Regions from separate parts of the Homo sapiens genome. Here region 2 is linked to region 1. The links come from fine-mapping of genetic effects on gene expression. A gene starts in region 1. The other region holds a variant in brackets. All regions are shown on one strand. Distances are between the middles of the regions.

Evidence for each region. PIP is the estimated chance that this variant, and not a neighbour inherited with it, causes the effect. A credible set is the group of variants that fine-mapping cannot tell apart.
Region 2: its variant is the best candidate, but not a certain one, in a credible set for the expression of HAUS2 in whole blood (INTERVAL, PIP 0.57).

The regions. Positions count from the first base shown.
Region 1 is chr15:42,545,868-42,551,246 of GRCh38, forward strand. HAUS2 (HAUS augmin like complex subunit 2) reads left to right here and starts at 2,971. Exons shown (of 6, transcript NM_018097.3): 1 at 2,971-3,098. The coding sequence starts at 3,006. LRRC57 (leucine rich repeat containing 57) reads right to left here and starts at 2,926. Exons shown (of 6, transcript NM_153260.3): 1 at 2,826-2,926; 2 at 2,484-2,589; 3 at 2,239-2,377; 4 at 1,394-1,662. The coding sequence starts at 2,567. RefSeq lists an enhancer at 2,762-3,231.
Region 2 is chr15:42,455,253-42,460,631 of GRCh38, forward strand. It overlaps ZNF106 (zinc finger protein 106), which reads right to left. Exons shown (of 22, transcript NM_001366845.3): 4 at 1,706-1,906. Among named protein-coding and RNA genes, the nearest start is that of ZNF106, 33 kb to the right of the region's middle. RefSeq lists enhancers at 2,079-2,911, 2,912-3,743. The variant C/T (reference allele first, on the strand shown) is at 2,026.

The sequences.
Region 1 (5,379 bases):
CTTCTTCTAGAAAGCTCATTCATTAAAGTCCATCACTTTTGTTATGACCTCAAGATCTGTATCTATACTCTTACCTCTATTCTGCTCCCACGTTTCCAACTTTCAGTAAGATATTTCCATTTACAAGATTCACCACAGACAACTCAGCATGTCCATTCTCAATAGCACTACTGTTCCTTTAGGCCCTCAAGCTCAATACCAAGCAATTGTCTTTGACTCACCCCTTTTGCCATTTAAATACTAAAAGTCACCAAATTATTTGATTCTGCCCAGTATCATCTCAGACCATCACTTATTAGAAATCATGGGAACTTTAATAAGTTCAATAACTAGCAATGCAAGTTCTCAGACCTCATCCCAGCCCTACTGGATCAGAAACACTGAGGGTAGGGGGCTAGTGATCTCTTTAAACAAGCTTTTCTGGTTAATTCTGATGCATACTAAACTTAGAGAACCACTGAATAAAGGTACTGGCAGAGGTGAATGTGGAGCAAATCCTCAACTAATACTTGCTGCTTAATTGATTCAGTTTTTTTTTTCCCCCAAGAAGCTCTATAACATACAAGAATATCCACTTAAGGTAAAAAAACATGAGGCCAATTCCTCAAAGACAGACTGAATTTCATCATGATGTAAAATCACTACAATCTAGAAAAGTAATAACCACATGCAGCTTCTGGCCACTTTAATGGACCATGCAGATCTAGAAATACAGACACTAGAAAACTAAAGGCCATCCAGTCTCACAGTGTTTAATATTTCATCACTTGTGCCTTCATGCCTAGACAAGAATCTTTGGATTGGTTTTCCAGACAAATATTAATTGAAAGCTTCCAAAGTAATGGAAACAAATTTCAAATATTATAATTAAAGCTGTACAACAGTGAAATGGGCTATCTCCAGAAAGCCTATCACTTAATATTCTTCAGCAAAAGGAGACACACTTTGTAACAAAGATGTCAAAACCCCACACAAAACGAAAAACAAAACTGAATTACCTCTGACTCCCGACTCTGAGAACCTCAGTTTAGGCCTCATTTCCACATTATATCCCTGACATAGCTCCTGGCTAGCTGGTTAGGGGCATATATTTGAGGAGGATCTGAAGAAGTCTTCAAGATTTGTGAGACAGTAGTTTAACTTTTGAAATGATCTCTCCCTGTTACCTACCCCACCCTCCCCAAAACACCTACACAACTAACACATCCAGTGTCTCAACTAATTCCATGGCACTTTGGGCCTTGAAATTAGTTCAGCCTATAGAAGAAACCTCTCATTTAGCCTCTGATACTTAGCTCTATGATGGCAGTTTAGGAAACAAGAGGTTAACAGGTATCAGGAGACCTTAAAGCCACACATATGCTGTAGGAAAAAAAACCTTAAAGCTCTAGACCTGATTCTGGTTGAGGTTGAGTTCGATGACTTGCAGCTCTCCCACTGAGTCAGGTATACTTCGAATCTGGTTCTTAGAGAGATCCATCACATCCAGGTGCCGTAGGCTACAAAGTTGGGGAGGTAATGCTCCCAGTTGGTTCCCAGAGAGGCTCAGGGTCTTGAGGGCAGAGAGTTGCCCAAAGGTAGACGGCAGCTCTCTAAGGTGATTGTTGTTTAGGCTTAGCGTCTCTAGTTTTTTCAGATTGCATATCTCATCAGGCAGAACAGCTGGCAAAGAAAAATTTTTTTAAAACCTGAATGTGATAGAGCTGAAAACAACTTTGATGAAGTTTATAAAGACTATATGGCAGCCTGCTTCGCCTCTTGTTAATATATGTAAAACTCCCACATGTGCCATTTTTAGATATTGCATTTTACCAACATAGTCTTTAGAAGGTGAGGGTGCCATCAAAATGCCGGAGAGCATTTGTGTGTATAATGGGCTCCTTTTGTAAAGGGGCCCAAGGCACAATCCGACAGCAATTTTGTGATATTTGGAAGATCCTCCCCTTCTCATCCATCCCCCATTCCAAGTTAGGTAGCTTTGTTTACATTACATCCCCAAAATGTTCTTCTCTTTCAAGTCCAAATTAACCCAGTAACAATCATTATAACACCCAATCATTATAAGGCTTATTTTAGATGTAATTACAAGAAGTAGAAAGAAGGCTTCAAGGATTCCGGCATTCGCAACTTGAGCCCTCCTGCACGGTTTCATAACAAAAACAAAAATCAGCTTGTAAGAGAAAACCACCCCTGGTAACAGCTGATCACTAGCAAAAGCCTCCCTGGCGAGAGCCATACTCAGTTTGTTGTTGTTCAGGGAGAGGCTCTTCAGCAGAGTGAACTTTCCTATCAGCAAAGGCGGTAGGCTTTCGATCTTGTTGTTGGACAAGTCGATGGTCCTGAGATTGCTCGTCAGCTTCTGCAAGTCTGCGGGGAACTGGAGAAAGGAGTTCACAGCGTGGGGAATCCCGCACCGACTAAGTTCGCCGCCCCCGCCGTCCCTCTCCCTTTAAGTTCCCTGGTCGTGTCCCTCCCAGTCTCACCTCGGTCAGCCCTCGGTCCTTAAGCTGAAAGACACCAGTTTTCTGCGCCGTTTCCACATGAGCGCGGAGCGCACTGTTTCCCATCCTAGCGCCGCGGCTCAGGTCCCTGCGGGAAGGAAGCGCTGCTGTCACCGCCCAGTCCACCCGGTCGGCCTCCCGGCTGGGGCTCCTGCCCCAGCTCTCAACTCCCGCCGATCCCTGGCTCCTGGGGCCCGACCCAAGAGCGACAAGGAAGAAACGGAAGAACACACAGCCCGACCACCAAGCCCTGCCGCCTTTGCAGCTCTGCGGAGGCCAGGCGCCTCTGGGAGCCTACGGAAGATCAGGGAGCCCCGGACTCGCCTCCCACCGCTCAGCTGCCGTAAGGCTCCGCAGGTGAAGACCCAGGACCCGCAGTAGCCGGGATGCGCTCCCCGGCTTAGTCCCGGGCGGGAACGCCCTGTGACGTCATCGAGCCGCGCCGTGCGTTCGCCCTGCGATCCCGCTCACTCTTGGCGCCTTCGCGGAAGGTGCGTCCGAGCCATGGCCGCTGCCAACCCGTGGGACCCGGCGTCCGCGCCTAACGGCGCTGGGCTAGTGCTAGGCCACTTCATAGCTTCGGGGATGGTCAATCAGGTACGTGGGGGTGGCGGTGGTGTCATCAAGGGGGTGCCCAAGGTGGCAACAATATGGCTGTGAGTTGGTGCTGCTGGCTGTGGGAGTGGTGAGGGTCCTGGTTGGGGTCTGTACTAGAGTAATAAGAGCCCCTTCCAGGCAACAGCCGCGAACGTTCTGCCGTGGATGCTTGGAAAGCGGGGATCTGAGTAGATGGTGTTTAGGGTAGACTGTGTTTTGAGTGTCTGTAGGGTAAATTTGTCCCAGTCCAGTTTGTGGGAGATTAGACTGTTACCAGCCTTTTTTTCATCCAGTGATACTGCCTCTAGACTGTAGTGTAAGGGCGGGGATGGGAAATACGGGTCGTTCTGTCCCCTTGCGGAACAAGCATTTCCAACAACCCTCGTTTGTGGGAAGTGTTGAATCGTATTTGGGGCGGGAGGTGCTGGGTAGAGAAGAGCGCCAGAAGCTCTTTTTTGACATTTTTATTTTATTTTATTATTTATTTATTTATTTATATGAGACAGAGTCTCGCTCTAACGCCCAGGCTGGAGTGCAGTGGCGTGGTCTCGGCTCACTGCAACCTCCGCCTTCCTGGTTCAAGCGATTCTCCTGCCTCAGCCTCTGGAGTAGCTGGGACTACAGGCGCCCACCACCACACCCAGCTAATTTTTTTTTGTATGTTTAGTAGAGACGGGGTTTCACCTTGTAAGCCAGGATGGTCCCGATCTCCTGACCTCGTGATCCACCCGCCTCGGCCTCCCAAAGTGCTGGGATTACAGGCGTGAGCCACCGCGCCCGGCCTTGGCATCTTTAAAGGCAAAAAAAAAAAAAAAAAAAAAAAAGTATTGGCTAAAAAGATAAGACCTTGGAACGTGAATGGAGGAAGAGATTAATTTTGAGAAGGAGAGAAAAGAGACATTAACCCAAGGAGTCACGGAGTGGCAGTTTTAGGTTGGGCAAGAGGAGCATGTCGGAGGAAGGAGCCAACAGAGGGAGAAATTGAACATGTGAGGAAATAATGGAATGCAGTGACAGGAGGGCATGGGGCAAGTGGGATCAAGGGCATTGAGAAAAATGGGGAAATAAATTTTGATATATAGAGGAAGTTGAGAAATTTCACTAAAAAGAAAACAGAAAAGTTAAACTGATCTGTAAAAATCAGCACATATTAGCCGGCATGGTGGCGTACACCTGTAGTCCCAACTACTCCGCGGACCACATGGGTCCTGGAGGCTCAGATGGGAAGATGGCTTGAGCTTAAGAGATGGAGGTTGCAGTGAGATGCGATCGGGCCACTGCACTTAGCCTGGGCGACAGAGTGAGACCCTGTCTCAGGGAAAAAAAAAAAAAAAAAAGCACTACAAACATGATGGAAGATTTACGGAAAATACATAACTTTTTATAGTCAGAAGAGCCATTAGAGACTCTAATACCTTACAGTATTTTTTAATTTAAGAAACTAAGGCTTAGACCAAGAAACTTGCCCATGGTCACTAGACTGTTAAAGGAGAATTAGATCTTAGTACTCTCCCTTTTGACACATTGTATCCCCTCTCAAGATGAACTGTTATAAGAGGCTGTGATACTGTATTAAAAGATTTTAAGCTTTTGTTGAACACCCATTGTCTGGGTGATGGGGAGATTCAGGTGGTCCTAGTTGACTAACTTTACCAGGAGTGACCACAGCACTCTACAGTGTAATCCTTCCTCCCTTCTCTCCTGTGTTTTCTTTTTTTTTTGAGACGGAGTCTCGCTCTGTTGCCCAGGCTGGAGTGCAGTGGCACAGTCTTGGCTCACTGCAAGCTCCACCTCCTGGGTTCATGCCATTCTCCTGCCTCAGCCTCATGAGTAGCTGGGACTACAGGTGCTCACCACCTCACCCGGCTAATTTTTGTATTTTTAGTAGAAATGGGGTTTCACCATGTTAGCCAGGATGGTCTCGATCTCCTGACCTCGTGATCTGCCTGCCTCTGCCTCCCAAAGTGCTGGGATTACAGGCGTGAGCCACTGCACCCGGCCCTCTCCTGTATTTTCTTTTTCTTTTCTTTTCTTTTTTTTTTTTTTCTGAGACATAGTCTCCCTCTGTTGCCCAGGCTGGAGTGCAGTGGTGTGATCTTGGCTCACTGTACCCTCTGCCACCTGGGTTCAATCAATTCTCGTGCTCCCGAGTAGCTGGGACTACAGGCACCTGCCATCACACCTGCTAATTTTCATATTTTCAGTAGAGACGGGGTTTCACCATTTTGGCCAGGGTAGTCTCAAACTCCTGATCTCAGGTGATCTGCCTGTCTCGGCCTCC
Region 2 (5,379 bases), 91 kb before region 1:
GAATATTTTTGCATATACATAATGGGATATTACGGGAATGGGACCCAAGTCTAAACATAAAATTCATTTATGTTTCATATACACCTTTTATACACAGTCTGATGATAATTTTAGGTAATATTTTGAATAATTTTGTAAAATGAAATGAGGTGTGGAATTTTCCACTGGTGGCCTCATGTTGGCACTCAAATGTTTTGGATTTTGGTGCATTTTCAGACTTTGGATTAGGGATGCTCACCCTTTACTGATATTTTAAGATGAAGAAAGTCTCCTTCAAGGAATTGTTCAAAAAACTTTTTTTTAATTTTAATTTTTTGTTGTTGTTATTACATAGATAAGGGCTTCCTATGTTGCCCAGGCTGGTCTTAAAGCCCTGGCCTCGTCTCCTCATGCACCAGGACAATAGGCCTGAGCCACCGTTCCTCCCGGCAAAAAAACTTTTAACATATAGAGTAAAAACAACTTCCTTTTTATAGTTAAGCCTCTGACTAAAAAGGAGGTACAGACGGGGTATAACTAGTATTCAAAGAAGAATCTTTAAATTTTTATTTTAGAATCTGAAATGATTCTCTTCATGTTCTGGGACTTAAAAAATTATCCCACCTCATAAGTGCTTCTCTCTCTCTTTCCCTCACATTGAAAATTTCTACCTCATTAATTAAACTCTTTTTAACAAATTTTATAATTAAACTCTTTAGACCAGAAAGCAGTAAGGTAAAAACATAAATGCCTAATACCTGAATGTATAAATGTAGGTATGAAATTATGCAGTACAAATTAGAAAATTTATATTGCTTAAATTATCTTGACACTTATCAAAAAAAATTTATTCAAGAAAGCACTGTGGTAGTCACTGGGGATTCAAAGACAAAAAGATAAATCAAATTTGGCAGAAGCAACACGTTAATTCACACCAGTCAAAAAATATTTTCCTAAGAAATGTTATTTGGCAGTAAGACTATACTATATACTATAGACTACACTGTTATTTTGGCGATACGACTATACTATATACTATACGATTTATACAATGAAGCTTATATTCTAACACCTTTCCACTGGAAAATTTAAACGCCAAATAAAAACTTATTGGTATTCAAAAGATTTGGATACTGGACAGGTACGGTGGCTCACGCCTGTAATTCCAGCACTTTGGGAGGCTGAGGTGGGCAGATTGCTTGAGGTCAGGAGTTTGAGACCAGCCTGGCTAATGGGGTTAAACCTCGTCTCTACTAAAAATGCAAAAAAAATTAGCCAGGCATGGTGGCAGGCATCTGTAATCCCAGCTACTCAGGAGGCTGAGGCAGGAGAATTGCTTGAACCCAGAAGGCAGAGGTTACAGTGAGCCAAGATCACACCACTGCACTCCAGTCTGGGTGGGTGACAGAGTGAGACTCCATCTTAAAAAAAAAAAAAAAGATTTGGATACCAATAAAGCCATTCTCAACATAGTTACCAACATGGCAAAAATTTCAGATATGTAGCTACAGCTTATGTAGGAACAATACTAAGTTTGCTTTTTTAAGAAGATATTACAGTAGTTCAAGAAAACATTCCATTGCCCTTTGATTAGTAAGACAACAACCTCAAGCTAAACTTTATACCTAAGTTTAAATGCCATGGGCTGACCAGTACAAAGATATAAAATATATTCTCTGCTGTGTTCTGTTATAGATAGGCTTTTTTTAAAAAATCAATTACTTACCGACTTTGTTCTTTCCTTTGTTTTATTAACTGAATGAGTTCCTTGTCAAAATAATCTTCTTCCTCTTCCTCTCCTTTTCCATCATCTTCTCTTTCCTGGGCATCAACGTTATCTTTGTGCAACTGGCCAGAAATGTGCTTTGCATATGCAGAAAGACCCACTTCTGTGACCCCGCACACTCGGCACTCATGACTAATGTCCCTAGGGAAAGAGGGAGATGAGGGACATTCAATTCTCCCCACTGGCATGGCACACTCACCAGATCTGTTATTGTTTCCTCTGAAGGACACTGCACACTTTGGCACAGTGAAAAATTAGTG[C/T]TAATTAATTTCAATGCTCCTTTCATCACTTTTAATAAGTTTGTTTATAAGTTACTTTTGAAATGATTTTAAGATTCTTTTCCAGCAATCAAGAGGCAATAGACTTCAGATAAATGTCGTTTAGGAGGAGAAATCTTCTTGAATTGCTGTACTTAAAATCTTGTCAGAGGAAACATGGTGAAAGGGGAGGCAGGGCAGGGGGCTCAGAGCAAGCAGAAGTTGCTCTGGAGCACACCCATGGTGCCAGCTGCACTCAGAAGGCCTGGTGACAGCGCTTACATTTAATCTTTAGTCTAGAGCTTTCTTCCAGTGAAAGTTAAGGGGTGGAAACAAGAGTAGGTGGCGCAGCCAATCCCAAGTCGGTAACTAAATCGGAACAGCTGGAGCTCTGCCTGGAATGTGAGGATTCCGGACCCCAGGAGTAGTCCAGGCAAACTTTTTTGGTCTGGATGATACATGTGATCTACATTCTGCTTCAGAAGGGCTTATTTTAAAGGGAATGGAAAGCATTTCAGTTGTAGGAAGTTAACAGCTGTGCCAAGCAAATGTGTTTTCTCAAGTTTCAGAAAATGCTACAGTTGAGAGAGATGCAAAACCAGGTTTTTAGTTAAACTAGGCAGACTTTTTTGCTTTGTTTTGTTTTTTTACTTTACATACTTCATGCAAATCTCACTTAGCCAGTCTTCAGAAGCCAGTCTTGAATCAGTGTCCACAGCTGTAGCAGATCAGTAATTTAACTGCTTTTTAGCTTCTGGAAATCCCTTGACTGGGTCAGCTGACTATGCAGTCATTTATGAGAAACATCTGAACACCATAGTTACAAGACAGCAGTATCCATTCAACAATCCAAATTGGCTTAACTCTGTATCATGTGTCCTGGATTTAGACTAGTTATATTTTTGCACTTCCTATGCCAATCTATTAAAAAAAAAACCAACAACCCAAAAGGACATGCCGTCTTTGTCCAGACAGAACACATACACACACGTGCACCTCTGTTCCATCTTTCCCTCACAAATACCTAACTAGACATAGGCAGAATTTACATCAACCAGAAGAGACCCTCAAAACTGGGCACTTCATTTACTAGAGGACAGTTACTGTTACAGATCACCTGAATATTCATTCAAGGAAAAAAAAAAAAAAAAGGCCGGGCTTGGTGGGGCTCACGCCTGTAATCCCAGCACTTGGGGAGGCCAAGGCGGGCAGATCATGAGGTCAGCAGTTTGAGACCAGCCTGACCAAAATTGTGAAACCCTATCACTACTAAAAATACAAAAATTAGCCTGGTGTGGTGGTGTGCACCTGTATTCCCAGCTATTCGGGAGGCTGAGGCAGGAGAATCGCTTGAACCCAGGAGGCAAAGGTTGCAATGAGCCGAGATTACACCACTGCACTCCAGCCTGGGTGATAGAGCCAGACTCCATCTCAAAAAAACAAAAGAAAAAAAAAAACAACACCTTACCAAAAAACAGCTAAATTCTAGGTGTGCTGTTTTTTGGTAAGGTGTTTTCTTTTTTTTTTTAAATGAATATTCAGGTGACCTGTAACAGAAACTGTCTTCTAGTAAATACTTAGCATAGACACTCTTGTTTAGGGTGACAAAGTTTAAACACTCAAACAATGCCCAGTAAGTTTAAAAAAACAACACTGTTCCTTATTTTGTAAGGATCATGGAGAAGAGCTCAGAAAAACTGAGAAAATTTGCAAGTTTTCACTCTTTTTTGACTTTGTAACCTCAAATACTGACATTTTTAAGATTCATTTTAATGTGCTCTGACCAGGTTTCCTAAAAATATCAATACCTGATTACCCAGAATATCAATATTCTAATTCCACAGGTACTTAAATACATTATTTTTACTGAGGGTTTTCAACTGCACTTACTACATTTATACACTTAAAGAATAATCTTCGGCCAGGCGTGGTGGCTCACACCTGTAATTCCAGCACTTTGGGAGGCCGAGGCGGATGGATCACCTGAGGTCAGGAGTTTGAGACCACCCGGGCCAAACTGGTAAAACCCCGTCTCTACTAAAAATACAAAAATTAGACGGGCATGGTGGCGGGCACCTGTAATCCCAGCTACTCAAGAGGCTGAGGCAGGAGAATCGCTTGAACCCAGGAGGCAGAGGTTGTAGTAAGCTGAGATCGCACCACTGCACTCCAGCCTGGGCAACAGAGTGAGACTCCGTCTCAAAAAGAAAAGAAAAAAAGAAAAAAGAATAATCCTCAACTTTCTCCAGTTTACCAGGGATACCGATACTTTTCTCTCAAGCAATTAAATTGATGGTAGCTCATTCCAACTGAACGTTAATAACAAGCTGTTTCTCAAAGCAACACACAAAGAAGTTAATTATATAAATCTATCACAATGGGCAGCATCAGAACAGTCTGAGGACTATAACAAATCTACAATATCTCATTTACACTATAAACATTCCAATCAACTCAATTTTCCAGTTAGAAAATCTTTTTGTTGGCCAGGCGCAGTGGTTCAAGCCTGTAATCCCAGCACTTTGGGAGGCCGAGGTGGGTGGATCACGAGGTCAGGAGTTCGAGACCAGGCTGGCCAATACGGTGAAACCCCATCTCTACTAAAAAAAAATACAAAAATTAGCCAGGCATGGTGGCACACGCCTGTAATCCCAGCTACTCAGGAGGCTGAGGCAGGAGAATCGCTTGAACCTGGGAGGTGGAGGTTGCAGTGAGCCAAGATCACTCCACTGCACTCCAGCCTGGGTGACAGAGTGAGACTTGGCCTCAAAAAAAAAAAAAAAGAAAATATTTTTGTCTTAAAACTCTCTAAAACTATGGAAAATATCTTAGCCTACTTTTCTACCTAAAAGCTCATAGAATGCTAAACTGAATATTGCAGTACCAGAGACATCTTTCTATTGGGGACTTTAGTATAATCCCTAAAAAGTATTTTAAAATAAAATCCATGATTTTATCCTTACTTCTAAAATGCAGAGAATCTGTCTAATGCTCAAACTATCAAAACCCCTCGCTCTTAAAAGACACAACTAGAAAGCAATACTGACTTTCCAAAATATTAAGGAATGTCGTATAAAGTAGGCAGAACTTAACTGTTAAAAATAAACATCCATAATCGTAAACCCACACACCCTGCAACCCCCAAAGCACAAACATATGTTGGATTCTTAACAGTGGAACATTTTCAAACCATTTTGCAATCCTAGTGAGAAAGAATATAACCATAGTTCCAAAATTATTTGACAGAGAACAAATCAGAGACCCTGCCCAGAAGGGCATACGCAATAAGTGCAGTATAAAAGTTAACACTAGCCAGGTGCCCACGCCTGTAATCCCAGCACTTTGGGAGGCCGAGGC